4 linked regions of the Homo sapiens genome follow. The protein of the gene in region 2 interacts with the protein of the main gene of each other region in a biochemical or structural test. Each region holds a gene or a part of one and is shown on either strand. Other genes may lie near its edges. The genes, in order: RITA1, RBPJ, NOTCH3 and PTOV1.

Region 1 (5,039 bases), on a different chromosome or scaffold from region 2:
TTTTTTTTGAGATGGAGTCTCGCTCTGTTGCCCAGGCTGGAGTGCAGTGGCACGATCTTGGCTCACCACAACCTCCACCTCCCGGGTTCAAGCGACTCTCCTGCCTCAGTCTCCTGAGTAGCTGGGACTACAGGCACATGCCACCATGCCTGACTTAATTTTTTTTTTTTTTTTTTGAGACGGAGTTTTGCTCTTGTTGCCCAGGCTGGAGTGCAGTGGAGCCATCTCAGCTAACCTGAACCTCTGCCTCCCAGGTTCAAGCGATTCTCCTGCCTCACCCTCCCTGGTAGCTGGGATTACGCCACCATGCCTGGCTAATTTTGTATTTTTAGTAGAGACGGGGTTTCTCCATGTTGGTCAGGCTGATCTTGAACTCCCGACCAGGTGATCCACCTGCCTTGGCCTCCCGAAGTGCTGGGATTACAGGCATGAGCCACCGCGCCTGGCCACAACACAAATTTATTTTGTCACAGTCTGGAGGCTGGAAGCCCAAGATCAAGGTGTTGGCAGGTTTGGTTTCTCCTGAGGCCTCTCTCCTTGGCTTGCAGTTGGCCACGTTCTCACAGTGTCATCATAGGGCCTTTTCTCATTTTTTTTTAATCCTTCAATTACATGCAAGGGCCTTTTCTGTATACACACACACCCCTGATGTCTCTTCCTCTCATAAGGACACCAGTTCTATTGGATTAGGATCCCCTACCCTTATAATGTTATTTAGCCTTAGTTACCTTTTTTTTTTTTTTTTTTTTTTTTTTTTTTTTTTTTTTTTTGAGATGGAGTCTGGCTCTGTCGCCCAGGCTGGAGTGCAGTGGCACCATCTCGGATCACTGCAGCCTCCACCTCCGGGTTCAAGGAATTCTCCTGCCTCAGCCTCCCGAGTAGCTGGCATTACAGGTGCACGCCACCATGCCTGGCTAATTTTTGTATTTTTAGTAGAGACGGGGTTTCACTGTGTTGGCCAGGCTGGTCTCAAACTCCTGAGCTCAAGTCGTTCTCCCGCCTCTGCTTTCCAAAGTGCTGGAATTACAGATGTGAGCCACCATGTCTGGCCAGCCTTAATTACCTTTAATTAATCTAAATAATTAAGGCCAAGTGTAGAGACATTTGGGGTTAGGGCTTCAACATATGAATTTGGGTGGGCACAATTCAGTCCATAAGAACTGGCCAGCTAAAGTTAGGGTTCATTCTGAACCACAGGGACATATTTCAGATGAGAGAAATGAAATGAGAATGGGAATGATACCTATTATAAAAACAAGAATCAGTTATTGCCAGTTCTGTAGACAAGGCAGGGTCAGGTGGAGATTAGCAACACTGATACCTACAACATGGCTGAAAACACTGAGGTAAAGATAGGCTGCATTAGGAAGTATGGTGTCCATGAAAAGGGAGGTGACAACTCCTTGCTCACCTGGAGGGTGGAATTTTCTTCTGGATGCCAACAGGTAGAGGGTGTCAAGTGAGGGGTTGCATAAGAGGTAGAGAAGTTATTGAGCAAAAACCTTGGCACCAGACATATACAGGCATTAGCCAATGTGGTTTGAGCAGCTAAACCAAGTGGCAAAAGCTTGCCCTTTCAAAGACTTGCAGTTTGGGGATAGAAGCACTTTCAGTCCTGGCCAAAAAAACTATGGGCGTGGAATCTTGCAGGTATGCCGTGAATATCTGTTGAATAAAAAAAAAAAAAAAAAAAAAGGCCAGACAGGCTGACTCAGGCCTGTAGTCCCAGCACTTTGGGAGGCTGAGGTGGGAGGATCGCTTGAGCTCCAGAGTTTGAGACCAGCCTGGGCAACATAGTGAGATCCCTGTCTCTACAAAAAATAAAAATATTAGCAGGGCATAGTGGTGCATACCTGTAGTCCCAGCTACTCTGGAGGCTGAAGTGGGAGGATTACTTGAGCTCAGGAGTTCGCAGCTGCAGCGAGCGTCACTGCACTCCAGCCTGGGTGACAGAGTGAGACCCTGTCTCTTAAAAAAAAAAAAAAAAAAGGCCGGGCGCAGTGACTCTTGCCTGTAATCCCAGCACTTTGGGAGGCCGAGGTGGGTAGATCATGAGGTCAGGAATTGAAGACCAGCCTGGCCAACATGGTGAAACCCCCCCCGTCTCTACTAAAAATACAAAAATTAGCTGGGCATGGTAGCACATGCCTGTAATCCCGCCTACTCAGGAGGCTGAGGCAGGAGAATCGCTTGAACCCAGGAGGCGGAGGTTGCAGTGAGCTGAGATTGCACCACTGCACTCCAGCCTGGGTGACAGAGCGAGACTCTGTCTCAGAAAAAAAAAGAAAAAGAAAGAAAGAAAAGAAAATGGGCACGGTGGCTTACTCCTGCAATCCTAACACTTTGAGAGGTTAAGGCAGGGGGCTGCTTGAGTTCAGGAACTCAAGACCAGCCTGAGCAACATAAATCTGATCTCTACTAAAAATCAAAAACAAAAAAATTAGCTGGGCTTGGTGGCACTGTGCCTGTAGTCCCAGCTATTAGGGAGGCTGAGGTGAGAGGATTGCTTGGGCCCAGGAATTTGAGGCTGCTGTGATCTGTGACTGTGCCACTACACTCCACTTGAACAACAGAGTGAGATCGTGTCTCACAAAGAAAAGAAAAAGTGGAGGCTATAAAGACTAAGGTTATACTAATTGTGACTCTCAATTGCAAGTGACAGAAAACTTATTCAAACTGGCTTCCCCAGGAGAAGGCATGTGGGGCTCCTGTAACAGGGGCTCAAACTGTGGCTGGAACTGTCTGTCTCCACCTTAGTGCTGCTTTTCCCTGCATGCCCTTCAATCTTCAGTAGGAAGGAGATAGCCACAAGCTGCTTTGGGCTGACATCCTATCAGCTTAGCAAGAAGTAAAGTCAGGTGGCAGAAAGACATCTCTTTCCTAGTGGTTTCTGCAAGGTCCTAAGGCAGATTCTGATTGGACAGGCTTGGGTCATCTGGCCATTCGTGAACCAATCCATGTGGCCAGGAGGATGGAATATGCAAATTGTCCAGGCCTGGGGCACATGTCTGGGAATGGGGTCAGGATGCAGGGGCAGTGGATGTTTCGCAGGGAAAATCAGCAGAGACCGGGGGCAGTGGTGCTTAAGAGGCTGTGGCCTCGCTGTAGGTTTCAGACTGGGAGACAAGGACTCCTGGGATCTGCAGGCAACCCTCCTCTGCTGCTGCCATCCCAGGGTGGGTGGGAGAGCTGTTAAAGTTTTGAGGGGTTGTTCATCCCCCAGCTCATGGCGTTTATCTTCCATTTGCCAGACCCATCAGCCACACCCCGTCTTACTGTGATGAGTCGCTGTTTGGCTCCCGATCTGAAGGCGCCAGCTTCGGGGCCCCGCGGATGGCGAAGGGGGATGCCGCAAAGCTCCGTGCTCTCTTGTGGACGCCACCACCTACCCCCAGGGGTAGCCACTCGCCCCGCCCCAGGGAGGCACCACTGCGAGCCATTCACCCAGCTGGTCCCTCCAAGACAGAGCCGGGGCCAGCGGCAGACTCCCAGAAGTTATCTATGGGTGGGTTACACTCTTCACGCCCCCTGAAGCGGGGACTTTCCCATTCCCTCACCCACCTGAATGTCCCCAGCACTGGTCATCCAGCCACCAGTGCCCCCCACACAAATGGGCCTCAGGATCTCAGGCCTTCCACGTCAGGGGTGACCTTCCGGAGCCCCCTGGTGACTTCCAGGGCTCGCTCAGTTAGCATTTCAGTGCCATCTACCCCACGACGAGGTGGGGCCACCCAGAAACCAAAGCCCCCTTGGAAATGATACTCTTTCATCAGGGTTGCCTATGGGGCCACGGCGACAGGTATGGCCCCTTGCCAGGGTAGGAGGACATTCATCACCCAGGGAACCCCAGGTATTAAAGAAGCCCCTGTGGGGGCAGACAGACATAGCAGGGGTGGGCAGTGCCTCCCTTTATCCTGACAATCTCTAGTCGATTCTTGCCTTTTTCTCCCGATTGCGGATTTGGGGGCCACCTCTAAGATGCCTCTCTCCAGCCCTGTCTCAACCATACTCCAAATTAGTGCCAACCCAGGGGCCTGGCACCTCCCACATCATCCATTGTCTTGCTGCCAAGTGCGAATAAACGGCGTGATTGCCAACCTGGAGGGTCCCCTCTTATCCCTTCAAGCCAAGCTTCCTGCTCAGGATTAGTTTCCAGCTAAGTCTGCAAGCCCTAGAGGAGTTTTTCCAGGCTGTCTGTGAAGCCTGGGGAACACAACGGCAACTGGGAGATTTGTGAGTGAACACTGTTTCATCTTAATATGCTTCTGAATTTATTTTCATGTACTAAATAGATCAGCTCATCAAAGCCATGAATGTCACTTTTTTTCCCCCTCAGGGTAAAGGCCATTGTTAGGCCTGAGTTGATTTAAATAACAAAGTTAAATACAACAGATAGTACAAGGATGTGGCAGGCAACATGACAGCGGTGAGTGGGTAACTGAAGTTTGGGAATCTGGGGCTTCGGGAAGCGCTGGACTCTTCCTCCCGTCGGCTTCTGGCTAATGCCACTAACTTGTGGTTGGCCGGCTCTTCCTTAGCTCAGAGTACAGACAATAGTATTTTTTTAGTTTTGTTTTTAAGTTTGTTTGTGTGTGTGTGTGTGTGTGTGTGTGTGTGTTAAGGTGGGAAATAAAACACAATGGCTAGGACTTTGCCAAGTGGAGGGTCCAAGAAAGCCAGACAGTGACATGTGTGTCTGCAGAGCACTTAGGATGCAGCCCAGGACTTAGGAAAAGCAACAAAGCCTTTGCGCAGATGGAATTGCACCCAGATTGGGCAGTGTGGGCTGGGCTCTGGGCCTCTCCTTGCCCCCGTCTTCCTGTAAGGCACCTCCAGGAGGCACCAGGATTTTAGGGAGTCCAGTTGGAAGCCACATCATCTGGTTGGTACGTCTGCCTTGGGGCAGGGAAGAGTGGACACTGCTGGGGAGGGAGACCTGCAGTGCCCAGGACCAGTGACACACAGAAACACCTGTGGGGTCAGGCAGGCCAGCTGTGCTCTCATGCAAACATGCTTTGTTTTTTGTTTGTTTGTTTGTA
Region 2 (7,891 bases):
TTTATCAATTCTGTTTCATTATCTCCATCACCACCAACACCTCTTCGTCTTCTAATTGCTGGAGTATTTTAATGTAAATCTCATCCTATCCTTTCAACCAAAATTTCTGCAATAGTGACTAATACATGCCCTTTTTTTTGAAACATCATTATACGTAACAGTTGACAGCAGCTCTTAAGTGTCATCTAATATCCTATTTCATGTACAGATTTATCAGATTGACCCAGAATGTCTTTTTATAGTTTTTTTGCTTTGTTTTGTTTTACAGTGGTTTGTTCAAACATGGATTCAGATAAGGTCCACACATTTTAGTCTGTAATAGTTTCTTCTCACCCTCTCTCACCTTTGTTTTCCTTCTATGTCATTTATTTGTTGAAGAAACTGGATCATTTTTCCTGTTGTGGAATTCCATATTCTGGGTTTGGCTGATTATATGTTTCTCTGTCTCTCTTACTTTCCATGAACTGGTGGTTAGACATAAAGACTTTCAGAACTGATTGGTAAGATATACATTTATTTCCATTGGATTGGAAGTCATAATATCTGATTATCCCCTTTTTTTTTTTTGGTCATGTTGAGATTGATTATAGTAGTTCAGCTGTTGTAAGTCTATTCCACCCATAAAGTTCCTCAGCAAACTTTAACCTAATGGTTTTAATAGTCATTGATGATGTTTAAATCCATTTCATTAAATGCTGCAAAATGGTGATATTCTAATTTTTTAAATTCTAACTTCTGCATTCGTTAGCTGGAGTTTTTTCTACAAAGAGGGACTTTGCCATATCAGCTATTTGCTTCAATTGTAATATGTAATGAAAAGGCAGGATTAGGTGCTTGTTTACTCATTTGCAGAATAATAACATTCCTTGAAAGTGACCAGTGGGGTTTTAGGGTTTTTGTTTTGTTTGCTTTCTTTTCATTTTGTTTTATTATGAGATCATGGTTTTTGTTGTGGTTGTTGTTATTGTTGTTGTTTTGTATTGGTTATATTTTAGTCCACTCAGTCCACTAATATCACTTAGTTTTTATTACGGAAAAATTTCAAACACTCTCAAGTAGACAGAGTTGCACCATACAGTGAAACCTCTTATGTTCATTCTCTAACGTCAACAGTGATCTTAACATTCAACCAATCTTATCTTCATCTATACCTGTACTCCAGCCCCACTTTCTTCTGCCCTTATTTTAGTTTGATGCATATCCAATCAGTGTTCAAATTTAAAATGGTCTAAAATATTTTAAAAATCAGATTGCTTGAATCAAAATTCAGATCTACCACTTAGTACAGTTTATATTGTGATATGTCCTTGAGTATAATCTATGGACACCCCCTCAACTCTTGCAATTTATTTAAGTAAGTTGAAACATTTAGTCACTAGAGATTTCCACGTACTAGATTTTGCTGATTTCATTTATTTGGTATAGTTTAATGTATTTTCTGTAAATTGGTAGAGTCAAAAAGAAATAGAGCGTGGGCCTAGTTGGAAAGACAGATTTCATTCAGTACTATTGCAATAGGGGAAAATAGAACCAAGTTCCATTTCAGAATACAACAAAGACACTTGGGGATGAAGCAGAGTGAGAGGGTCAATGGATGGAAACTTTCTAAAAGGAGACATCAAAGGTAGAAGGTTTCTTTCTGACCTGACTTAGGATTCCTGCTAAAGGCAGGCCAAGGTGATCATAGATCCAGAGTGGGAGATAGTTTAGGAGGATTCTTACTATATATAACTGAGCTAAACAGACTGATGACGGGGCTCAAGGACAAATACTAGTTGATTGCTCAGAGCAGCCTGCTTAAAAGTATGGTCAAGGAGAGAATCTTTAGTGTAGAATGGTGATCAGATTTAAGTTTGTTGTCCTTTGGTTCTTGTTTTCTTTCTGAAAAGCAAGACCTGCTTCAAAGGTGGTGGTGTGCTCTCTTGCACTAGGAGGTATATTATGTCTTGTATTCAGGCTATTTGCATTTCAGATTACACAGTTTTATGTAACTGCTTTAACTTTGTGTTTGTACTGAATATTAGTTTCTTGATGGCAGAGAACATATTTCACTTTCAGAATGTTTTTCTGCTTACATGGATTTATTTTCAAGAAATTTCATACAATACTTTATTTAGAAGAAAGCAGAATTTTCTGAAATCACAGTATGCAGAGGCATTTACCATCAACTCTGACAAACATCCTTCTGGTCCCTTTTCTATGCATGTATTCTGTGGAATTGGATGCAAACACATATTAAAAATATATACATTTGCCTAATGGAACCACAGCATACAGAGTATTTTATAGTCTGCTTTTCCATTCAGTGATATTCCAGGAAAATATTTTCTTATCAGTGTGTTTAGATACACATCCTTTCAATAGGTCATCATTTAAATTTCTACTGTCTAACATTATTTTAAAAGTAAGTTTTTCTCTAATAATCAGCACCACATTAAACATACTGTGTAGCTTTCACTTTAAAATTATTTTTATGGACATTTGATATCATTAGCTTGACATTATTAATAACAGTTACCTTGACTTTTTGATATCATCTGTACTGTCTTGGAAAGTGAAAATATTTGTCAAACTGTTAAATGATAAGAAAGAATAATTATACACTGCCAAGCAGAATTTCCTTCTTTTGCTCCCTCCCCACCTTCTGCTCCAATCACATAAATAAGAGCTGTTTTTTCTTTGCAGTATGCATTGCCTCAGGAACAAAGGTGGCTCTGTTTAATCGACTACGATCCCAGACAGTTAGTACCAGATACTTGCATGTAGAAGGAGGTAATTTTCATGCCAGTTCACAGCAGTGGGGAGCCTTTTTTATTCATCTCTGTGAGTATAAAAGTGTGCATTTAATGTTTTTAGTGTGAAATTGTTAAAATCTTTTGATGAGATACATGGATATATTAAGTTTTGTCATTTGCCTAATCATAAAATAAATTTAAAAAGATGACAATTTGATTTATTTTTCCACCTACTGCAGTGGATGATGATGAATCAGAAGGAGAAGAATTCACAGTCCGAGATGGCTACATCCATTATGGACAAACAGTCAAACTTGTGTGCTCAGTTACTGGCATGGCACTCCCAAGATTGGTATGGCTCTACTTTTGCTTTAGTGATAATGTGAAGTAAAAATTAATTTCTTAAACAGGAAAATCACAACATTCAAATGGAAAAACACACCTCAGTTTTATGCTTTTTAATTTTAAAAGGTATGTTAGTAATCAGTGCTGTTTATAATTGACAGTTATGCTCTACCTTATTTCAGAAATGCTTTAAGGTAATAGCCAGTTTTTACAAGTACATTCTTAATGATTTTTTCTTAAATGATTTCCAATATATTTTGGTGGCAATTTCCTTTTTGGCTGTTTATCTGAAGATGTTCAGTAGAGGGCACTATAAATTACATTTCTTTTCTTTACTAATGCGGATAAACCGTATTCATTTTTTTGTGGTACCTGCCATATCCCAATGTAGGACCAAGTTTGCAAACAGAAGACATTCTTATTTCTTTTGAAATATAAGCGTAATTTTTGTTAGCTTACTCTCTCACAAGAAGATAGATTTATTAAAACTGAAATAAAATTGGTATTTCTAACTGGGAGCAGGGCATAGGATTTAGGGCTTTTGTTCAATAGAAGACATTGAAACTCGGCCACGCATGGTGACTCACACCTGCAATCCCAGCACTTCAACAGGTGAAGGCAGGAGAAGGAGAAGTGACTAGCCCTGGCATCACTTGAGCTCAGGAGTTCGAGACTAGTCCTGGCAACATGGTCAGACCGTCTTTACCACTGACCCCGCCCCCCCAAAAAAAAAATTAGCCAGGCATGGTGGTGCACACCTGTAGTCTCAAGCTTAAGTGGGAGGATCACTTGAGCTCGGGAGGTCAAGGCTGCAATGAGCGGTGATCGTACCACTGGACTTTAGCCTGGGCAACAGAATGAGATCCTATCTCAACAACCACAGAAAAGGAGATCTTGAAATTGTAAAAACTACTTTTGTTAGTAAAATGAAAACAAAAGTCCTCTATAGTGCCACCACCCTCCCAATTTTCCCTCTCCTTTTCTCAAACAATATAATTTACTTATATTCAAGATGAAGGGGATTTATGAGTAAGTTTGATTCAAGGTCAGACTGAAGAGGTTGGGTGAGTAGAAGAACATTTAGTATTAATGTTCCTAAACATGCCTCCTATTTATCTTTTTGGTGCAATATTCCACTGGCTTATATTTTCTGGGGTCATTTCAGCAGAGGCTGGTTTGATCTACAGTTTTCTAAGCCAGTGATTCATTTCTTTGTTACTGTTTTTTTTTTTTACCCTCTGTCATGATTGTACAAGGTGATTTTATTTCCCATGTCAATGCAATAAGCTAGAAGACATGAAGTATAGTAATAGTAATCTGTAAAGCTTTGCAGCTGAGACAAATTATAATAAAAAGGGTAACGTTAGGGAATGAAGGGCATGAAAAACAGAGCAGGAGACAGAAGCAAGCAAAAAATCTGAATCAGCATTTATTCATTTTTTTTCTCTTCTCATTCATTTCCTCTGTTCCAAGGATGATGTTCATTTGCTTTGGTGTTAAATGCTTGTACTGCAGAAGCACAACTTAGGAGGATGATTCTGATCACCAATAGTTTATAATACAAACCACTTAGAAGACAGACCCAAATTTAAAACAATGTTTTCATTTACAGTTGTTTGTAAAGTACCAGTAGCCTGCCTTGCTTGAAAGTCATTAATTGAGGTTTTTACACTCAAAACTGTATGGCTTTATATAAAAATGTTGCAATGAAAAATTAACTTATTAGAAAAAGTTGCAGTACCATTATTAAGACGCTGATACATAAATCTTTCCAGGGGTTTCATGACAGGAATTCTGACATGCAAAGTCGAGTGCCTCTCGTCATTGAGTTTACATTTTGATAGAGTGATAAGCCAAATACCCATGTAAAGGATTTATGTAGTGATGAAAAAACAAAACAAGATAATAAAGGGATAGAGAATTGGAGGAGCGCTTAGAGAGGTCAGGGAAGTCTTTTTGAAGTCGCAGTATTTGAAGAGAGCCCAGAATGAAGTCAAAGAACCGGTAATTGAGTGAGGAGCATTTCAGGCAAACAGAACAAGTACAGAACTGAAGGCAGGGGATGTATGATGACTAGTAAAGAAACCAGTGGAGCTGGAGCGGAGGGAGGAGAGGTCAAGTGGCAGGAACTGAATCTGTAAGGTTAGCACTAAGCAAGACCTTGTAGGATCCCTCTCTGTATCTAGGGTAAGGACTTCATATTATCTCTGCATGTTAGAAGGCCACTGGAGGATTTTAAACGGGGCACGATGGCCTATTTTTGTTTAGAAGTATATGTGTGGCTGCTGTGTGGAGAAGAGAGCATAGCAATGCGGCCGTGGAAGCAGAGAGACAGGTGCTTGGATTGTTGTCATAATTGAGGCAAGAGTTGATGCTATCTTAGACCCAGGATCATAGTATTAAGGTGGTGAGGGGTGACTGATTTGTTGGAAAGTGGACCTGACAGAATTTGCTGGCAGATTGGATGGTTGGGTGTGAGAGAAAGCAAGGCATCAAGGGTGACTCTTAAGGTTTTTGGATTGAGTGAATGCTAGTGCCATTTATTGACCTAGATGAGTTGGGGAAGGATCAAGTTTAGGAGGAAATCCAAAAATCTGTTTTCGATATGCTAAGCTTGAGGTGCCTGTTAGACATCGTAAGTGGAAATGTTGAATAGGTAGTTAAGTGTACATACAAGTTGAATGCAGGAGAGAAGTCTGGAGATAATAAATTTGGGAGTTGTCAACCTTTAAATTTTTAAACAGTATAGATTATAAAGAGAGGAAAAGAGGGCTGAGAACTCAGCTCTGGGCATTTTAAAGGTCAGTTGGAGCAGTTGTGGTCCTGAAAGCAAAATGTGTTGAGAGCTTCTGAGAAAATGAAGTAAAATGAGGACAGAAAAGTGCCGTGAGATGCATCTGTCTGGAAATCCTTGGTGGCTTTGAAAAGCAGTTGTAGTGGCGTCTTTGAGATAAAAGGTTGGAGAGATTGCAGGAGATTGGACAGTGAGGAAGAGGCGTTTGCAGAAAAACAGGTAGTGAGAGGGAGGGACAGGAGCATGTAGTCAGTGTTTTCTTTACTTTTGATTTTGAGATGAGAGATAGTTATGTTTGTATGTTGTTGGAAGTGATCAATAGAAAAGGAAACAGAGTAAAAGTTCTGTGTCAAATTTTGCTCTTCATCATGATCATCTACTTAGCCATTACCTTCTAGGTGTCAAGTGTCATATAGGGTTTGATAGTATTATCTTTCAGATATTCATGTGTTTTGTAGACTAGTTGCGTTATAAGCTTTAGAGATCAGTTGGACAGGCAGCCAGCCCTGGGATCAGGACATATTCTGGTCCTTCAGCTACTAAACTGGTAATTTTGAGCAATTTGTCTGACCTTTCTAAGCCCATTTTGTAATCTGTAAAATGAGTTTGATTTTGTTATGTTTTTAAATACGTAAGTTTTGGATAATAGATATAAGACGTTTGCACTGACAGTAGCCTTCTAGAGATTTTTCCCTTTGATGTTGGAGTATTTGTCATTTTATGCATATTATTGGAAAATATCATTAGAACTTGCTGTTCAAAATATGGTCTGTAGGCCAGCAGCATTAACATCAACTGGGATTTTGTTAGAAATGCAGAATATCAGGCCCCACAAGAGTCCTGCTAGATCAGAACCTGTGTTTTTCACAAGAACCCCAGCTCATTTATGTGCACATTAATGTTTGAAAAACACTGATCTAGAAAACAAGTGCCTGCCTGCCTGATTTTTTTTTTTTAGATGTTCAGGGAAGAGGGTAACAGTTTCTACATTCTGACATGCTTGCAATCTAAAAGTGTTTTTTATTCCTAGTCTTTTTGTTTGTGAATGTTTTTATATATGTAGGCATAGGACAAATAACTGTGATGTATTATTATGCAGTATATAGCTTCTATGTACTTTTGATGTTTTACACAAGGAAAATCCTTTCCATGTGTGGATGACCTTTTATTTCTTAATTGTTAAATATAGATAATTAGGAAAGTTGATAAGCAGACCGCATTATTGGATGCAGATGATCCTGTGTCACAACTCCATAAATGTGCATTTTACCTTAAGGATACAGAAAGAATGTATTTGTGCCTTTCTCAAGAAAGAATAATTCAATTTCAGGTATGTTTTTAAATTACTGGTGAAATCTAAAATGTACAAACTGTGAGGTTAGCAGCTTGCAAAAATATGAAATTTTCATTTGCTGTTAATTATATACAAATACATGAAGCTATACACAGATATTTATCTCAGGTATGAGCATCCTTAACACACAATCCTCAGACATGCAAGCAATCCTTCCTCAAGGAAGAACTCAAAATTATGAAAATGTTCTCAGAGAAAACAGTTAACATCTAGTTCCAGGGTTCTTAATTGAAGAACAAAGAGCCCCTCAGGATATCCAAAAATAGATTTTCAGTGCTCATTGAATCCTCTGAAATTGTGTGCAAACATTGTATAGACAAAGCATTTTTCTGGGTGAAGGCTCAAAATCTCATCAGATTTATGTCGTGGTTTCCGAAGATAGTAATGATGACATGCTTTGAAAGCTAATGTTTTACATTTACTCAGAAGGCTTTCATGAGGTTATGACATGGGCAGATGATTTAATAAGACAGTTATGGTTTCATGTGAAACTCCTTTGCAGAGAGATGCCCATACACACTGATGGGCATGCTGAGTCCCTGGTCTAGGTGTGTTAAGGTAGGGGTAGGGGCTTTGCCTTCCCATCTTGATTCCCTCCCATGGAACATGCATAAGCTTCTAGCTGTTGCCTAAGCATGAGGAGTCCCATTGTCTTTCTTAGGA
Region 3 (7,799 bases), on a different chromosome or scaffold from region 2:
AGGGGATCCTAGGGCCACGGGTCTTCCTTTCCCTGATGGGCATCTACTCCAGCCAGGCAGGCCTGCGTGGTGCTCTTGGGAGAGGGACCAAGGCATGTACCCACGAGTGAGCACAGCATCTCCAGAAGCAGCCAGCGCTGGGCGTTGCTGGAATAGGGTGTGTGTTGAAGGGAGGGGCAACTGGCACAAGGCATGTGCTGCCCTGTCCAACATCGCCATCCCTAAGGGCTGTGTCCCTCTAGGGTGTGGCATAGTCTAACTGTCCTGCCAGAAGGGTCCAGGGTGTGGCTGGGTCTGAGCTAGTGGAGAACTGTGTGCATGCGATCAGGTGTGGGGACACAGTGCGTGTGTCCATGCATGCTCTTGTCAGAGAGAGGGTGATGGAGAGAGGAAGGAAGATCGAGAAAAACACAAAGACGTGAGAATGAACTAGAAGCAGATAGACCAGGAGAAGACAGAGAAGGACAGAAAGAAATAGAAAGCGGCCAGGCATGGTGGCTCACGCCTCTAATCCCAACACTTTGGGAGGCCGAGGCTGGTGGATCACCTGAGGTCAGGAGTTCGAGACCAGCCTGGCCAACACAGTGAAACCCAGTCTGTTCTAAAAATATAAAACTTAGCTGGGCATGGTAGCAGGTGCCTGTAATCCTAGCTACTCAGGAGGCTGAGGCAGGAGAATCGCTTGAACCCAGGAGCCAGAGGTTCCAGTGAGCCGAGATCACGCCATTGCACTCCACCCTGGGCAACAAGAGCCAAACTCCATCTCCAAAAAAAAATTAGCTGGGTGTGGTGGCGCACGCCTGTAGTCCCAGCTACTCGGGAGGCTGAGGCAGGAGAATCGCTTGAACCTGGGAAGCGGAGGTTGCAGTGACCCGAGATTGCGCCACTGCATGCCAGCCTGGCAACAGAGTGAGACTGTCTCAAAAAAAAAAAAGAGAGAGAGAAGGACAGAAAGAAATAGAAAACAAGAGGGTGAGTTACAGAATCTGTCGAGCTGAACCTGAGCATGGGCCTACATAGTATATGCCCCTTCCTCACAGGACAAGCCGACTGGACACCATCACCCACACCAGGACCTGTGGGTGTTCGTGAACTCACACTGTGGGTCCCATAACATGGGCTATGGGCCACCCTGAGCTGTAGGCAATGTGAGCCACATGTGTGTGCGTGCACGGGCTTGTGTGTCTGTATGTGGATTTGGGCATGCATCTATTGTGTCTCAGTTGCAGCTACATGTGAGTCTATCTGTACATGCATGTCAGCGTGGGTGTGCCCGTGTGTGTATGAGCTGCACACCCATACGGGAATGCACAGATGTGTGTGCTGTCTGTATGCAGGTTGTGTCTGTTGTGCGTCTGTGTATGTGAACCGTGTAAATGGGTGTACAGCTGTGTGTTGGTGTGACCTGTGTGTGCACCGCTGTGTCTGTGTATGGGTTGGCTGTGTCTGTCCATCTGCATGTGTGAGCTGGGTGTAAGCATGTCCTTGAGTCTTCATCTATGTGCTGTCTGAGTGTGTGCAGGCAGCGTGTGTGCCACACCTGTGTGATCATATTTGTGTGTGTATGTATGTCAATGTGTGAGCTGTGTGCGTGCAGCTGGGTGTGTCTTTCCTGAGCCAGGTGTGCAAGTCTGCGAGTGTGCTGTGTGTGTGCAGGTTTGCATCTCTGTTACGTGACCTAGAGCTATGTGTGCCAGCGAGTGTGTCACAGGCCATGTGTGTGCGCCGCTGGTCCGGCGGAGGCGGCGGCTCCTGCCTGGTCCTGCCCCGTCCGGGCCCCGGGGCTGGGCTGGGGAGGCCGTTCACTCCCGAAACCCCCACCCCGCCCAGCGCCAAGCCCCACACTGGCGTCTGGGACCCCTGGCCAGGGGCCTTGGCCCGCGCCCCTCCCCCGCCCACCAGGCCTCCCGTAGCGGTGAGGGGGGTGCCCCCGCAGCCCCCTCCCCGGCCCAGCCGCGGGTCCCGCTTTGTCTGGCAAAGAAAGCGCGAGGCCGGCCGGAGGGAGGGGGTGTCTAGACGGCGCGGCCATTGTCCCGAGCGGGGGAGGGGAGGGAGGAGAGGAGGAGGGGCGGGGGCCCCTGGCCGGCTGGGGAGGGGCTCTGGCCGCGGGGAGGGGGCGCTGGAGCCGAAGGGGAGCACGTGGGCCCTCGCCCCTTCCCCTCCCCGCGCAGGGGCGGGGTCCCAGGGCCTCCGGGTCCCCGCGGCCAGAGGAGAGAGGCGGGCTGCGGGCGGGGGAGGGGGCGCGCGCGCCGCCGAGGCTCCGGCTCGGAATCCGGCTCCGGGTCTTGCTGCGCGCCGGCCTGGGAAGTTTTCTCCGAGTTCAGAGCTCCCAGAACTTCGCGCCCCCTCCCCACCCCCCGCCTGGCCCAGCCCGCCCGGGGTGTCGGGGGCGGGGTGGGGGGGCTTTTGTGCGAGAGGTCCCCGGCCTAGAAGTACCTGGGCCCCCAATCATAACCTACCCAGGACTCCAGGCGTGAGTTGGATGGGGACGAGTCCCGAACTCTGTACGCACCCCCCCACCTCGAGTCCCTGATCCCCGCACCTCGAGCTCCCAGTCTCGGACTCCTGGGTCCCTTCATCTTCAGCTCTAATCGCTCAAGGGTCCCTGTTCCTTGGGCCTCTGGGGTCCTCCCCATTCTGAATCTCTGGGTCCTCCAGGACTGGCATGAAGCCCGGGGCTCCTGCGCCCCTTCCCCGACCCTGGTTCCTGCCTCCCATGAACCCCCGCCAGCCCCGGCCTTGGGGGTTCTTGCACTCCCCCTCTGCCGCCCTCGTCCCATCCGCCAGGTCCCGGCCCCTCACCTGCAGCCCCCGGCCCCGCTAGCAGCAGCAGCAGGGGCAGCGCCCGCACGGGTGGCGGTGGCGGTGGCGGCGACATCGGGCGACGGCGGCGGCGGCGGCCACGGGCCCCCGGCCCCATGGCGGCCGGCCGCGACCCTCCCCTCCTCCCTCCTTCCCTGGGCTCCGGGCGCGTCCCGGGCCAGCCTCCGCGCCGCCAACTTCGCCGAAGTGAGGCGGCCGGGCCGCCCCGCCCCCAGCCCTCGAAGGCTCGCCCCGCCCCGGGGCCGGCCCAGCGCGCCCCCGCCCCCCGCCCGGCCTCCCGGGGTCCCTGCCCACCCTCCACCCGCACAGCCTGGGACGCGCGGACCCTCGGAAACCCAGGCCGAGCATGCAGTGAGACGCGGGCAGAACCCGGAGTGGCGGGCACACCCAACCTCGTGAACGCCCACGCACCCCATCCCCATCCCCCAGTACACACCCAGAGCCGGACACCTCTGGAGCCGGGACAAAAAACACAGCCTCCCAGAAACTCTGGAAACTGAGGCCAGTCACGTCCTGAGAGGCTCATGGACCCACAGCCACGGACGCACAAATGCAAGCCCATGCACCAAGCTTCCCCAGGACTCTGATCTAAAACATTCACAAACCTAAAAGTCGGACCGGGCGCGGTGGCTCCGGCCTGTAATCCCAGCACTTTGAGAGGCAGAGGTGGATGGATCACTTGAGGTCAAGAGTTGGAGACCAGCCTGGCCAACATGGTGAAACCCGGACTCTACTGAAAATACAAAAATTAGCTGAGCGTGGTGGCGCACGCCTGTAGTCCCAGCTATTCGAGAGGCTGAAGCAGGAAAATCGCTTCAACCCAGGAGGCTGAGGTTGCACTTAGCCGAAATCGTACCACTGCGCTCCAGCCTGGGCAACAGAGTAAGACCCTGTCTCAAACAAAACAAACAAACAAAAAACCGCTAAAACTCACTCAGCCAGGCCAGGAGCCTAGGACTACATTTGCAGCCTCAGACCTCAGACACGTACTAGGAGTCACATGCATGTGTGTGTGTTCACACATGCACACACAAACTCTTCTTGCTCTCAGCCCTCCCAGAAAGCAACCCACTTCCTCTGTGACTCTCAAAGGGTCACCCCAGCCCCCTAGTCCCACCCCCATACCCCACACAGCTTTGGGCCTCAGCCTATCTGGCTCAATTTGATTAATTCTCTTTTCTTTTTTTTTTTTTTTTTGAGACAGCGTGTCGCTCTGTCACCCAGGCTGGAGTGCAGTGTCCCTATCTTGGCTCACTGCAAGCTCTACCTCCCAGGTTCAAGCGATTCTCCTTCCTCAGCCCCCACCCCCACAATCTGCCAAGTAGCTGGGATTAGAGGTGTGCGCCACCATACGTGGCTAATTTTTTCTGGGTTTTTGTTTACTTGTTTGTTTGTTTTTGAGACGGAGTCTCGCTCTGTTGCCCAGGCTGAAGTGCAGTGGCATGATCTCCGCTCACTGCAAGTTCCGCCTCCTGGGTTCACACCATTCTCCTGCCTCAGCCGTCCGAGTAGCTGGGACTACAGGCAACTGGCACCATGCTCTGCTAATTTTTTTTTTGTATTTTTAGTAGAGACGGGGTTTCACCGTGTCAGCCAGGATGGTCTCGATCTCCTGACCTCGTGATCTGCCTGCCTCAGCCTCCCAAAGTGTTGGGATTACAGGCGTGAGCCACCGCGCCCAGCTTCTATTTTTTTAGTAGAGACTGGGTTTTGCCATGTTGGCCAGGCTGGTCTCGAACTCCTGACTTCAAGTGATCCGCCCGCCTCAGCCTCCCAAAGTGCTGGGATTACAGGCGTGAGCCACCACGCCCAGCCTTGATCAATTGCCTTTTCCCAAATCAGTCATGCTGCACAGGCTTCCTGCAGCTCCCTCTGTTCCTGTGGAAAGAATGGGGACCCTGAGAGGCCTGGAGCCCAGCCCTGGAGGAACTTCCAGTCTGGGGAAGAAAAAGCTAGACGCACACACACCCAGTGTGGAGGGCTCAGGGCTGGGCCAGAGAAAGGCATGGAATCTGGGAAGGGCCTGGGGTACACGGGTGGTGGGTGAGGACTTTGCCTGGGAGGGTTATTTATTTGTTCATTCATGTATTCAACAAGTATGGCTAAGGCTCCAGCCCTGTATCACACTCTGTTCTATGGACTGGGGGTGCACCCTGGAGGGCGTCCAAGAGGACGTCCAGTGGGGCTTGGCCCTGAAAGTTGAGCTGGAGGGAAGTCATCCCAGCAGAGGGACTGGCCCATGCCAACAGGAAGGGACAGAGTTGGAAGGGAACGTGTACAGGCCAGAGGTTAAGAGGAGAAAGGAGCCATGCTTACTCCTTGGTATCTGGCTTGGTGATAAGGATGCTGGAAGAAGGAATGGGTTGGGTGGAGGAGAGATGCTGGGTTTGAGGGGGTCACCTACAAGGCAGGTATGGCTGAGCATGGGAGAACCATTCTGGTAGGAGATAGTCACATGGGTATCCCAGAAATCTTCAGACAATTTTTTTTTTTAGACAAAGTCCCTCTGTCACCCAGACTGGAGTGCAGTGGCGCGCGACCTCGGCTCACTGCAACCTCTGCCTCCCGGGTTCAACTGATTCTCCTGCCTCAGCCTCCCAAGTAGCTGGGATTACAGGCACACACCACCATGCCTGGCTTTGTATTTTTAGTAGAGACAGGGTTTCACTATGTAGGCTAGGCTAGTCTCAAACTCTTGAACTCAGGTGATCTACCCTCCTCTGCCTCCCAAAGTGCTGGGATTACAGGCATGAGCCACCACGCCGGGCCAATTTTTTTTTTTTTTTTTTTTTTTTTTGAGATGGAGTTTTGCTCTTGTTGCCCCGGCTGGAGTATAATGGCGCAATCTCGGCTCACCACAACCTCTGCCTCCTGGGTTCAAGTGATTCTCCTGCCTCAGCTTCCCGAGTAACTGGGATTACAGGCATGTGCCACCATGTGTGGCTAATTTTGTGTTTTTAGTAGAGACAGAGTTTCTCCATGTTGGTCAGGCTGGTCTCCAACTCCCGACCTCAGGTGATCCACCTGCCTCAGCCTCCCAAAGTGCTGGGATTACAGGCATGAGCCACCACTTCCGGACTCTTTTTTTCTTAAGACCAAGTCTCGGTCTGTGGCCCAGGCTGGAGTGCAGTGGTGCCATCTCGGCTCACTACAACCTCCATTCCTGAGTTCAAGCGATTCTCCTGCCTCAGTTCCCCCCGCCACCCCAAGTAGGTGGAACTACAGGCCCACACCACCATGCCCGGCTAATTTTTGTGTCTTTGGTAGAGACAGGGTTTCACCATGTTGTCCAGGCTGGTCTCGAACTCCTGACCTCAAGTGATCTACCCACCTCAGCCTCCCAAAGTGCTGGAATTACAGGCGTGAGCCGCCATGCCTGGCCACAGTTTTTTTAACTTTTTATTTGAAAATAATTTAAGCCGGGCGCGGTGGCTCATGCCTGTAATCCCAGCTCTCAGGGAGGCAAGAGGCGGGAGGATAGCTTGAGCCCAGAAGTTCAAGACCTGCCTGGGCAATATAGTGAGACCCCATTCTCCACAAAAAGGAAAAAAAAAAAAAGACGAAAATAATTTAAAACACACAAAGTTGCATGCCGGGCGTGGTGGCTCATGTCTGTAATCCCAGCACTTTGGGAGGCTGAGGCAGGAGGATTGTTTGAGGCCAGGAGTTCAAAATCAGTCTGGGCAACATAGCAAGACCTCCATCTCTATAAAAAATTAAAATAAAATTAAGAGGGTGTAGTGGTGAGCGCCTGTAGTCCCAGCTACTTGGGAGGCTGAAGTGGGAGGATCACTTGAGCCTGGATGTCACTGCACTTCAGCCTGGGCAACAGAGCAAGAACCAACTTCAAAACAAAAACAAAAAAAACTGAGAGTTACAGAATAGCGTGAACAACTTGTATAAGCCCTTTGTCCAGATTCACCAACCACCCACATTTTGCCACATTTGACATATATGTGTACATATACGTTATACACATATGCATATATGCATTTTTTGGCTAAATGATTTGAGAGTAAGTTGTAGATATGATGTTCCTTTGCCTTCAAATACTTTGCTGTGTGTTTCCTGAGAACAAGGGTATCCTCTTTCATAAACATACTACAGTTTTTGCCCCAGTCTGTATTCAAAGTTTGCTAGTTGCCCAAATAATATCCTTTATTGGGCCAGGTACAGTGGCTCACACCTGTAATCCCAACACTTTGAGAGGCCAAGGAGGGAGGATTGGTTGAGGCCAAGAGTTCAAGGCCAGCCTGGGCAACATAGTAAGACTCCTGACTCTACAAAACTAGAAAAAATTAGCAGCATATAGTGGCGCGTACCTGTAGTCCCAGCTACTCAGGAGGCTGAGGTGAGAGCGTTGCTTGAGCCCAGGAGGTCGAGGCTGCCGTGAGCTGTGATCATCCTGCTCCACTCCAGTCTGGATAACAGAGCAAGACCCTGTGGGGAAAAAACAAAAAAATTAGTGGCCGGGCGCGGTGGTTCACACCTGTAATTCCAGCACTTTGGGAGGCTGAGGCCGGCTGATCACCTGAGGTCAGGAGTTCAAGACCAGCCTGGCCAACATGGTGAAACCCCTTTTCTACTAAAAATACAAAAATTAACTGGGCATGGTGACAAGTGCCTGTAATCCCAGCTACTCGGGAGGCTGAGGCACGAGAATCGCTTGAACCCAGGAGGCGGAGTTTGCAGTGAGCCGAGATCGCGACACTGCACTCCAGACTGGGCAAAAGAGCATGATTCAGTCTCAAGAAAAAAAAGAAAAGAAAAGAAAAAAAAAATTAAATCTTTTATTGCAATGTTTCTTTGCTGGCCCAGGATCTATCTAATGCTGCATCATGAGTTGCATCTAATCCTTTTGTTTTGAGACAGAGTCTCGCACTGTCACCCAGGCTGGAGTGCAGTGGCATGATCTTGACTCACTGTAACCTCCACCTCCCAGGTTCAACTGATTCTCCTGCCTCAGCCTCCCAAGT
Region 4 (8,431 bases), on a different chromosome or scaffold from region 2:
GAGTGGGGGATAGGTGGGAAAACTGAGGCCGGGGCCTGCAAGGACAGGCAGTCCCCACACACCCCAGAGGGGACGTCCCAATATTCAGCCCCAAATCCCCTGCTGGAAGCCCACGGGGCCATGTCCAAACCCTCTGCTCACCCCTCAGGACCCCCACACGCTGGTCCTCATGTCCTTTCCCGCTGCCCACCCTCAGGACCCTTCCTTCCCAGAGCCTGCTGTCACCTTGACACTGGCCCAGCAGAGTCCTGAAGCCTTCAGCCAGCCCCACCTCCAGCCTTTGCCCCAGCTGTGCGCCTGATCGATTCTTGAGACCCAAGTTAGAAGCCAGCTGTAGGGGGCTTTCCCCGTGCCCCAGGCTGGGCCCAGGGCTTCCTTGCAGCCTCCACAGGCACAAGCCGGCTTGCGCTGTGTCTGTCCCACACACCAGCTTGCCCTGTCTTTCCCAGGCTGAAACTCTCCTAAAGCTCCCTGTCATCCCAAAGTTCAATTCCTTCCTCTGGCTCAGGCCAGTGCCCACCTCTCTGGCCTTATAAGTCTGACCCCGGGGGGAGGCAGGAAGGAGATGACAAGAAACACAGAGGGGACTAAACCATCCAGGAGAAAGACAGCGAGGAAAAGGGGGAAACATTTGGAAGACAGCTGGGACACCACCCCCAGAGGGGTCTCACAGACCAAAACATGTAGAACACCAAGAGAAAGTTCTAGCAATAAAGCCAAGCAACGCCACAAATGCTACTCACAGGCACTCTCCCCACTATTTTTATTACTATTTTTTTTTTGAGACAGAGTTTCACTCATTTCCCAGACTGGAGTGCAGTGGTGCGATCTCAGCTCACTGCAACCTCGCTCACTGCAAGCCGCGCCATCATGCCCGGCTAATTTTTTTTTTTTTTTTTTTTTTAGTAGAGATGGGGTTTCACCATGTTGGCCAGACTGGTCTCGAACTCCTGACCTCAAGTGATCCGCCCGCCTCGGCCTCCCAAAGTGCTGGGATTACAGACGAGGGCCACCAAGCCTGACCTCACTTATTGTTTTTTAAAACCAAAAACATCTCAAAGCAAACAAGGGAAAGCTCCGCAAACAGCCTGGCAGCAGGAAACCCACGAGAGTTTCCCCGTAATAGGCGCCTCCAGGCGGGGGAAAACAAATTATAAGGGTGATTTATTTTTATCTTATTACAAACAGGTATTTTCCAAATTTTCTATGAAGCACAAGGAGATCTTTCCTTCCAGAATACTAGCAAACACAAAAAATTTTATTTTGTGAGTGCTTAAAAAGAGAAAAACCTGAACAAACTTGCTCTCCACCCACGCAGGTGATTCTCCACCCACGCAGGTGATTCTTCACCCACGCAGGTGATTCTGACTTTTGGGCAGTCGTCAGAAGATCAGATAGAAAACCTGAGTATCTTGGCGTTAGAATGAGTTGGACAGAGAGTGGATGTTGCCCCGGGGGCTTCAGGCACCATACCGGACATCCAGCATCTGAGATGAGTTAAAACGCACAGCTGGAGGTGACTTTCGAGATGAGGGTACACTTACAACATACAAGTTGTTTATGGCGCTGGGACCTGAGGTATCTAGTCCGCATATACAGTGACACGTATGCATTTACTGCCACAAAGATGGGTAAAAGTCAGGAGAACGCACTTAAGAGCCCAAGCGACATACTTAATGTCTGCTTGTCTAGGAGAGCAGGTTGACTCAGGACTTCAAATATGCTGGGATCTGGAGCCATAGTAAAGAACACATATGCTTGCCTAAAACCCAGGGATACCTTCCACAGCAGGAGCAGCACATCAAGATGGGACGATCATATTTAAAAACGACGGTTAAGGTGCAACCTAAAGTAAATCTCACATCTTGGCAATCGTGTGCAAAACTGCGCGCCTGACATCCCTATTGCACAGGGAAGCCCATCTAGTACTTGCACTGAGGTTTAAAACCTTGGGGTGCATGTCTGAGGACCCGGAAAGCACTTTTGAACAACTAGATGCGAATGCTGCAGGAAGGGGCGAAGGCAGTGGAGTGAAGGGGTACGTTTAAGTTGTGGGAGGTGATCTAAGTCTCGGTATCCATGTTTATGACCCCAGGAAGCCTGTTTAAGGTTTCAGTAGGGCTGCCACAGCTCTGTGCCATCCACACCGCTGAGGCAGTGTATTTAAGAAGCGGACCCGAGCGCGAACCCAGGGGAAATCTCACATCGGGGCAAGCGTGTGCACGGTGCAAAGTCGCGATGTGCGGTTTTACAGCCCCAGGTAAACCTTACGGTTTCTGAAAAGCATGTGCATCTTTTGGGTCCGGAGAAGCGTGTGCAGCCCAAAGTACCTGCGAAGCTGAATGTTTACGTTTAAGGTCTGGGCTCACGGCAGTCCATCAAAGCATCCCACATGTGGGCGCGGGCGCGTATTCTAGGTGCGCACTCCACGGGCACGGAGCGGCCGCCAGGGGAGAACGCCCACGGGTGCGACATCTGGGGGCGCTGGTACAAAGCGCGGGCCCCTCCCTCGCCGCTGTCCCCCAAAACCGCCCCCATTTCCAGGTTTCCTGCCCGGAGAGCGAGCAACTCTCCAATAGGAAAAACAAGCGAGCGTGCCGGCTGCCTGTCTGCCGCCCCCAGCCCGCGTTTAAATCGGGCCGCGGAGTCAGCAGTAATATGAGCCCGCCCCGCCCCCGTCCCCCAACCCCCCACCCCGGCCCGAACGCGCAACAAAGGGGAGAGCGCGGCGCGAACCACCGGGTGCTCCACGGGGGAACCCGGCCCCGGGCGGGACCACCCTTCGGGCCACAGGGGACACCCCGGAGCGGCGGGGGCTGCGGACAAAGGCGTGAGCCCGGGATAGGGGCTGGGGGGGCGGGGCCGTGGAAGGCTCTGGAAAAAGGGCGGGGGGCTCACCATGGGAGGGGCCGAGCGGGCCCGGATCCGCGGAGGCTGCGGGCCTCGGGGGCTGGCAGGCCAGGAGCGCGAGCGGACGGCGCGCACCACGAGGGGCCGCGGAGGGCGGCCGCGACCCCCGAGGGGGCCCCCGGCGCCGGAGCGGTACGGGGCACGGCGCGGACGGACCATGGCGGGCGCGGGCCGAGCGGGCGGGGAGCTGCCGCGGGCCACAAGGGGGGCTGCGGGCTCCACCGACTGAGGGGCGCGGGCGCGGGCGCGCGGCTTCGGGGGAGACGGGCTGAGCCGTACCAAGCTCGGGGGACGCGCCGCCGGAGTGGGGTCGCCGCGGCCGAACCACTGAGGCGAGCGGGGGAGCCCGGCGCGTACCAAGCGCGTCCGAGGGGGCGTGGCCGGAGCGTACCAAGGCGGCGCGGGGGAGCGGGGCCCGGGCGGGAGCGGAGTGTGGGCTCGGCGGTCCTGCGGGCCTCTCCGGCGCGGGGGAGTCCTGGGAAGACGCGCGAGCCACAACTTCAGGGGGCGTGGCGGGAACGGGAGCCCCTACCGAATGGGGTGGCAGAAGAACGAAGGCGACACCAAGCTGGCCCCTTGCGGGGGTCGGGACGGCGGGAGACCTCATCCGGAGCCCTGGGCCCGCAGAGCCAGGAGACCGCGCCAAAATACATCAGGGAAGAGGGGAGGACGGAATAATGGGCCTGGGGACAAAGGAACCCACTGAAAGGGAACCCACTGAGGGTACGGATTGCACCCGAGCCTGAGACAGCTGAAGGTTTGCAGTCGGTGACGTGGCGAGGTGGGCAAGGGACTCCAACTCCCAGCGGGCCCCGCGCGGCCTGGGCGGGGCCAGCTGTCCCTGGAGGCTCCGCCCATTAGCCCCGGCGCCCAGGCTCCGCCCGCCGTCCCTGGCGACTCCAAGCTTCTCGCCACTCACGTCGCTCCCCGGCCTTCCGTGGATTCGCTCATTCGCTCTGCTAAAATGGAATGACTACTTACTAGTAGTTGTATAAGATTTTTCCCTCGATTTTTGTTCCTTAAACGTGGGTAATACCTAACCCTAGAGTGGTTATGGGGATCGAGCCCGAGGGGCTGTGCTTGACTGCTTGGCGCAGTCACTACTCAAATGTTAGCTTTTCTTTAAAAACAACAACAAAAATCTGTTATGAGTACCCTGTCCAGTTCTGTGCTCGGCGACGACCGAATCAGACCACGTCCCTCACAGGCCCCACGGTCCACTGGGGAGAGACATAATCACAGGCTGTGCTAAGTGTTAACTAGCGCACATCCACAGGGCGATGGGATATGACCATAGCGAGGTAAAGTTAGCAAGCAAGGGAAGTCAAGAAAACGACCTGTGAGCAACCTGCCATTCCAGATGGCTGGAAAAGTGTGCAAAGAGGACAGAACAGCAAAGACAAATCCTGAAAGTAGAAGGAATAAAAGGGAGCCAGTGTGGGCGGAGTCGAGTGAAGGTAGAGAGGAGAAATAGACACAGCTGTAGGAGGTTAGAGACGGAGTCCCTACTTCTGTTTCGGATGTTGACTAAACAATGTAGATAGATATTGATGTCATAGCCTGGAGAGAGAAATTCGGGAGTCATCAGTGTTTGAATGGAGACTGGATGAGCTCACAAAGAGACTGGGACACTCATCCCTTTAGCAGTCACGACAATGAGAAGCAACCAGCAAAGGACACGGAGGAGTGGCCAGTGAAATGGCAGAAGAACCCGTAGGCCTGTCCATGTTTTCCTGCCCAGGGGCTCCCGAGGGCTGACTGGAGCCCAGCCTTAAACCCCAAATCCAACCTGCATTGTGGCCAAACGGAGTCAGTGCTCCCTGAACACAAACTGCAAGTTAGTTATCAACAGGTACCTCCAATGCCCTGTCAATCACCCATGTGAGGACAACCTGGCAGCAGGAAGGAGAAAAAACAGGAGCTGCTTTAATCTCCCGGAATCCTCACTTCTCCCCATTCTTGTTGGTCCAAACCATCAAGATCTCTTGCCTGGGTGACGTCTCCTAACTCTTGCTGCCTTCTCTGTCACTACAATAATCAAAACCATCCAATGGCTTCCCAGTGCCTTTAGAATTAAATCCAAACTTGGTACTGTGGCCCCTGCTGCCGCCCCCCAAAAAATCTCTCTCCCATCCTTCCTGTTCTCTACCTGTTAATGCCTTCCCATCCCTCAGAACCCATCAGGACACACGTGAGTTTGAATGCCCTGAATTGTATAAGCATGGAGAGCGGTATACCAGGGTGTACTCCAGAGTGAGCAAAATGGGAACTCATGTCAGAAAGTGAAATGAAAATGTAGGCTGAAATTCTATCAGTAATACTGCAACAAAACTCTCTGAAACCATCTCACTTAACTCGGTCCACCAACTTGAAAGACACTTTCCTTTTCATCTGTGAAGCCCACTGCTGGGGCTAGCAGGCTACTATTATGACTAAGCAATTCCACTTCCATCTCTCAAGCTGTTTACTTCCTGAAAGGTAGCTGTTTGATCCAAACCTGTTTATGCCAGAAGTTCTTGTTTAATTTACTATCAAACTAATGAAATTAATGCAAGACAGTTGTTTATACACAAACCAGATTGCTTGCTTTGGAAAGACTAAAAGGGAGTTGTTAAAAGAAAAACATGCCAGGCGTGGTGGCTCACACCTGTAATTCTGCACTTTGGGAAGCCGAGGTGGGCAGATCACTTCAGGTCAGGAGTTCAAGACCAGTCTGGCCAACATGGTGAAACACCGTCTCCACTAAAAATACAAAAGTTAACCGGGCATGGTGGTGTATGCCTGTAGTCCCAGCTACTCTGGAGGCTAAGGCAGGAGAATCGATTGAACCCAGGGGGTGGAGGTTGCAGTGAGCTGAGATCTCACCACTGCAACTCCAGCCTGAGCAACAAAGCAAGACTCCATCTCTTAAAAAAAAAAAAATGCTGCCAAGTTAGGTACAAGTAAAGCAACTGTAAATTATTTAATGAAAAAGCTTATAAAAACCTAGGAAGACTCAGCCCCCAGTTTGTTTCATAAATGTCTTTAGGTTCTCAAGCCACTTAAAAAAATGACTCATTGTGGTTTGTGGGTGGAGCTTATACAAGAATGTGATGTTCTACTGGGCGCAGTGGCTCATGCCCGTAATCCCAACACATTGGGAGGCTGAGGTGGGAAGATTGCTTGAGCCCAGGAGCTCGAGACCAGCCTGGGCAACACAGTGAGACTCCCACCTCTACAAAAACAACAATAATTTTCTAGGCATGGTGGCATGCACCTGTGGTCCCAGCTACTCAGGAGGCTGAGGTGGGAGGATCTCTTGAGTCCAGGAGATTGAGGCTGTAGTGAGCCGTGTTCACACCACTGCACTTCAGTCCAAGTGACAAAGTGAGACCCTGTCTCAAAAACAAGAATGTAATGTCGTGTGCTAACTAGGAGACCAATACTGAAAGAAAGGGTCTTGGTCCTACGTACAAGAGATGTCTGTTTAAATGTTCTTGGTTAAAATAAGATGTTTAAAGTGTTAAGATGGCCGTTAGTGCTATTTGCCATATATTTCTAGCTCCACACTTGGCCAGCATTTGACCCCATTTAGCTTGAGTGCGGCCATGTGATTAATTTTGGCCAGTAAGGTGTGAGGCCATGTGATTACATCTGGCCAATGAGATATGAGCAGAAGTGACACATGTGAATTCAGCAAGAGCACATAATTGCTAATGGAAGACCAGACCCCTCTGCCTTTACTATGTCCATTGGCAACCTTCATGATCTGTCCGCACGGGCTCCAAGCTGACACTCAATACAGCACGAGTGACAAAATCCACCTTGGCTGTTTCAAGCCACTGCAATCTGGGGGTAATCTGGCCTTTCCTGATATACACAATTTTTTTTTCCCAAATAATCCCAGTTTAACCAACATTTGTTAAACCAATCAACTACCAAGTCTGAGTTTCCTAGAAGAACAAACTGGCAGTACATATAGGTTGGATGACATAGGCTAGGACACAATGACAACATGGACAAAGTGTTTTATACTGGCCGGGCACGGTGGCTCATGCCTGTAATCCTAGCACTTTGGGAGGCTGAGGCAGGTGGATCACCTGTTGTCAGGAGACCAGCCTGGCCAACCTGGTGAAACCCCATCTCTACTAAAAATACAAAAATTAGCCAGACGTGGTGGCAGGCGCCTGCAATCCCAGCTACTCAGGAATACAAATACAGTCTCCTGATTGATCCTCCAATTCAAGCAGGAGAATTGCTTAAACCCGGGGAGGCGGAGGTTGCAGTGAGCTGCACTCCAATCTGGGCGACAGAGCGACATTCTGTCTCAAAAAATGCTAATAGGCTGGGTGCGGTGGCTCACACCTGTAATCCCAGCACTTTGGGAGGCTGAGGCGGGCAAATCATGAGGTCAGGAGTTCAAGACCAGCCTGGCCAACATGGTGAAACCATGTCTGTACTAAAAATACAAAAAATTAGCTGGGCATGGTAGTGGGTGCCTGTAATCCCAGCTACTTGGGAAGCTGAGGCAGGAGAATCACTTGAACCCAGGAGGCGGAGGTTGCATTGAGCTGAGATTGTGCCACTGCACTCCAGCCCAGGTAACAGTGTGAGACTCCGTCTCAAAACAAACAAATAAAAAAGATAATAAAATGCTTTATGCTAAGAAATGGGAGTAAGATCATCTCTGGCTTGGATTTTTCTTTTCTTTCTTTGCAATTACAAAATAGTTTATGGCTGATTTTTTTTTTAAAGGTCTGCCTGATACATGCTTTGCAAACTCTAGGTATTTCAACTTTGTCATCATCGTGTGTGTCCAGACGCAGAGGCTCACACCTGTAGTTTCAACACTTTGGGAGGCTGAGGTTGGAGCATTGCTTGAGCCCAGGAGTTTGAGACCAGCCTGGGCAACATAGCAAGACCCCATCTCTACAACTATAAAACTAGCCAGGCGTGGTGTTACATGTCTCTAGTCCCAGCTACTCTGGAGGCTGAGGTAGGAGAATTACTTGAGGCCAGGAGTTCGAGACCAGCCTGAGCAACAGAGTAAAACTCTGTCTCTACAAAAAATACAAAAATTAGCTGGGCATGGTGGTGCGTGTCTGTAGTCCCAGCTACTCGACAAGTGGAGGTGGGAAGACTGCTTGACCCCTCTAGGCAGAGGCTGCAGTGAACCAAGGTCATGCCACTGCACTCCAGGGTTGACAGAGTGAGACCCCTGGCAATAATAGTAGTTAATATTTCTCAAGAACTTCATGTCTGAACTCACTGAATTCTCACACAGCAGGCCATGAGTTCAACAATCTTTTAATCCCCACTCCACAGATGGGGAAACCAAGGATCTGGAAGCAAAAGCCTGACGTCACAGGCTGCGGAGACACGGGACAGGGACAGGGCCCAGGTTCTTAATCTCAGTAGGTGTTGGCCTCCACTTTGTGGAATAAACAAGGGGCCAAGCCCCTCGGGCTTGGGACCGTCTTACCCTCGTCACTGCCGCGCTTCTCAGCCTCTCTGCCACCATCTGCCCTCCAGCACAGACCAT

Evidence for each region.
Region 1: the proteins of RBPJ (region 2) and RITA1 form a complex in vitro, tested with the Homo sapiens proteins (one study listed by IntAct).
Region 3: the proteins of RBPJ (region 2) and NOTCH3 form a complex in vitro, tested with the Homo sapiens proteins (one study listed by BioGRID).
Region 4: the proteins of RBPJ (region 2) and PTOV1 form a complex in vitro, tested with the Homo sapiens proteins (one study listed by BioGRID).

Annotation. Positions count from the first base shown.
Region 1 is NC_000012.12:113,188,059-113,193,097, forward strand, and holds the end of RITA1 (RBPJ-interacting and tubulin-associated protein 1), read left to right. Parts: intron 1-3,251; coding exon 3,252-3,759; 3' UTR 3,760-4,310; downstream 4,311-5,039. UniProt on the Homo sapiens protein: Tubulin-binding protein that acts as a negative regulator of Notch signaling pathway.
Region 2 is NC_000004.12:26,421,657-26,429,547, forward strand, and holds part of RBPJ (recombining binding protein suppressor of hairless), read left to right. Parts: intron 1-2,685; coding exon 2,686-2,823; intron 2,824-2,974; coding exon 2,975-3,087; intron 3,088-7,063; coding exon 7,064-7,204; intron 7,205-7,891. UniProt on the Homo sapiens protein: Transcriptional regulator that plays a central role in Notch signaling, a signaling pathway involved in cell-cell communication that regulates a broad spectrum of cell-fate determinations.
Region 3 is NC_000019.10:15,197,986-15,205,784, forward strand, and holds the start of NOTCH3 (neurogenic locus notch homolog protein 3 precursor), read right to left. Parts: upstream 3,011-7,799; 5' UTR 2,921-3,010; coding exon 2,803-2,920; intron 1-2,802. UniProt on the Homo sapiens protein: Functions as a receptor for membrane-bound ligands Jagged1, Jagged2 and Delta1 to regulate cell-fate determination.
Region 4 is NC_000019.10:49,845,967-49,854,397, reverse strand, and holds the start of PTOV1 (prostate tumor-overexpressed gene 1 protein), read right to left. Parts: upstream 3,240-8,431; 5' UTR 3,070-3,239; coding exon 2,899-3,069; intron 2,831-2,898; exon of another isoform or gene 2,722-2,830; intron 1-2,721. UniProt on the Homo sapiens protein: May activate transcription. Required for nuclear translocation of FLOT1. Promotes cell proliferation.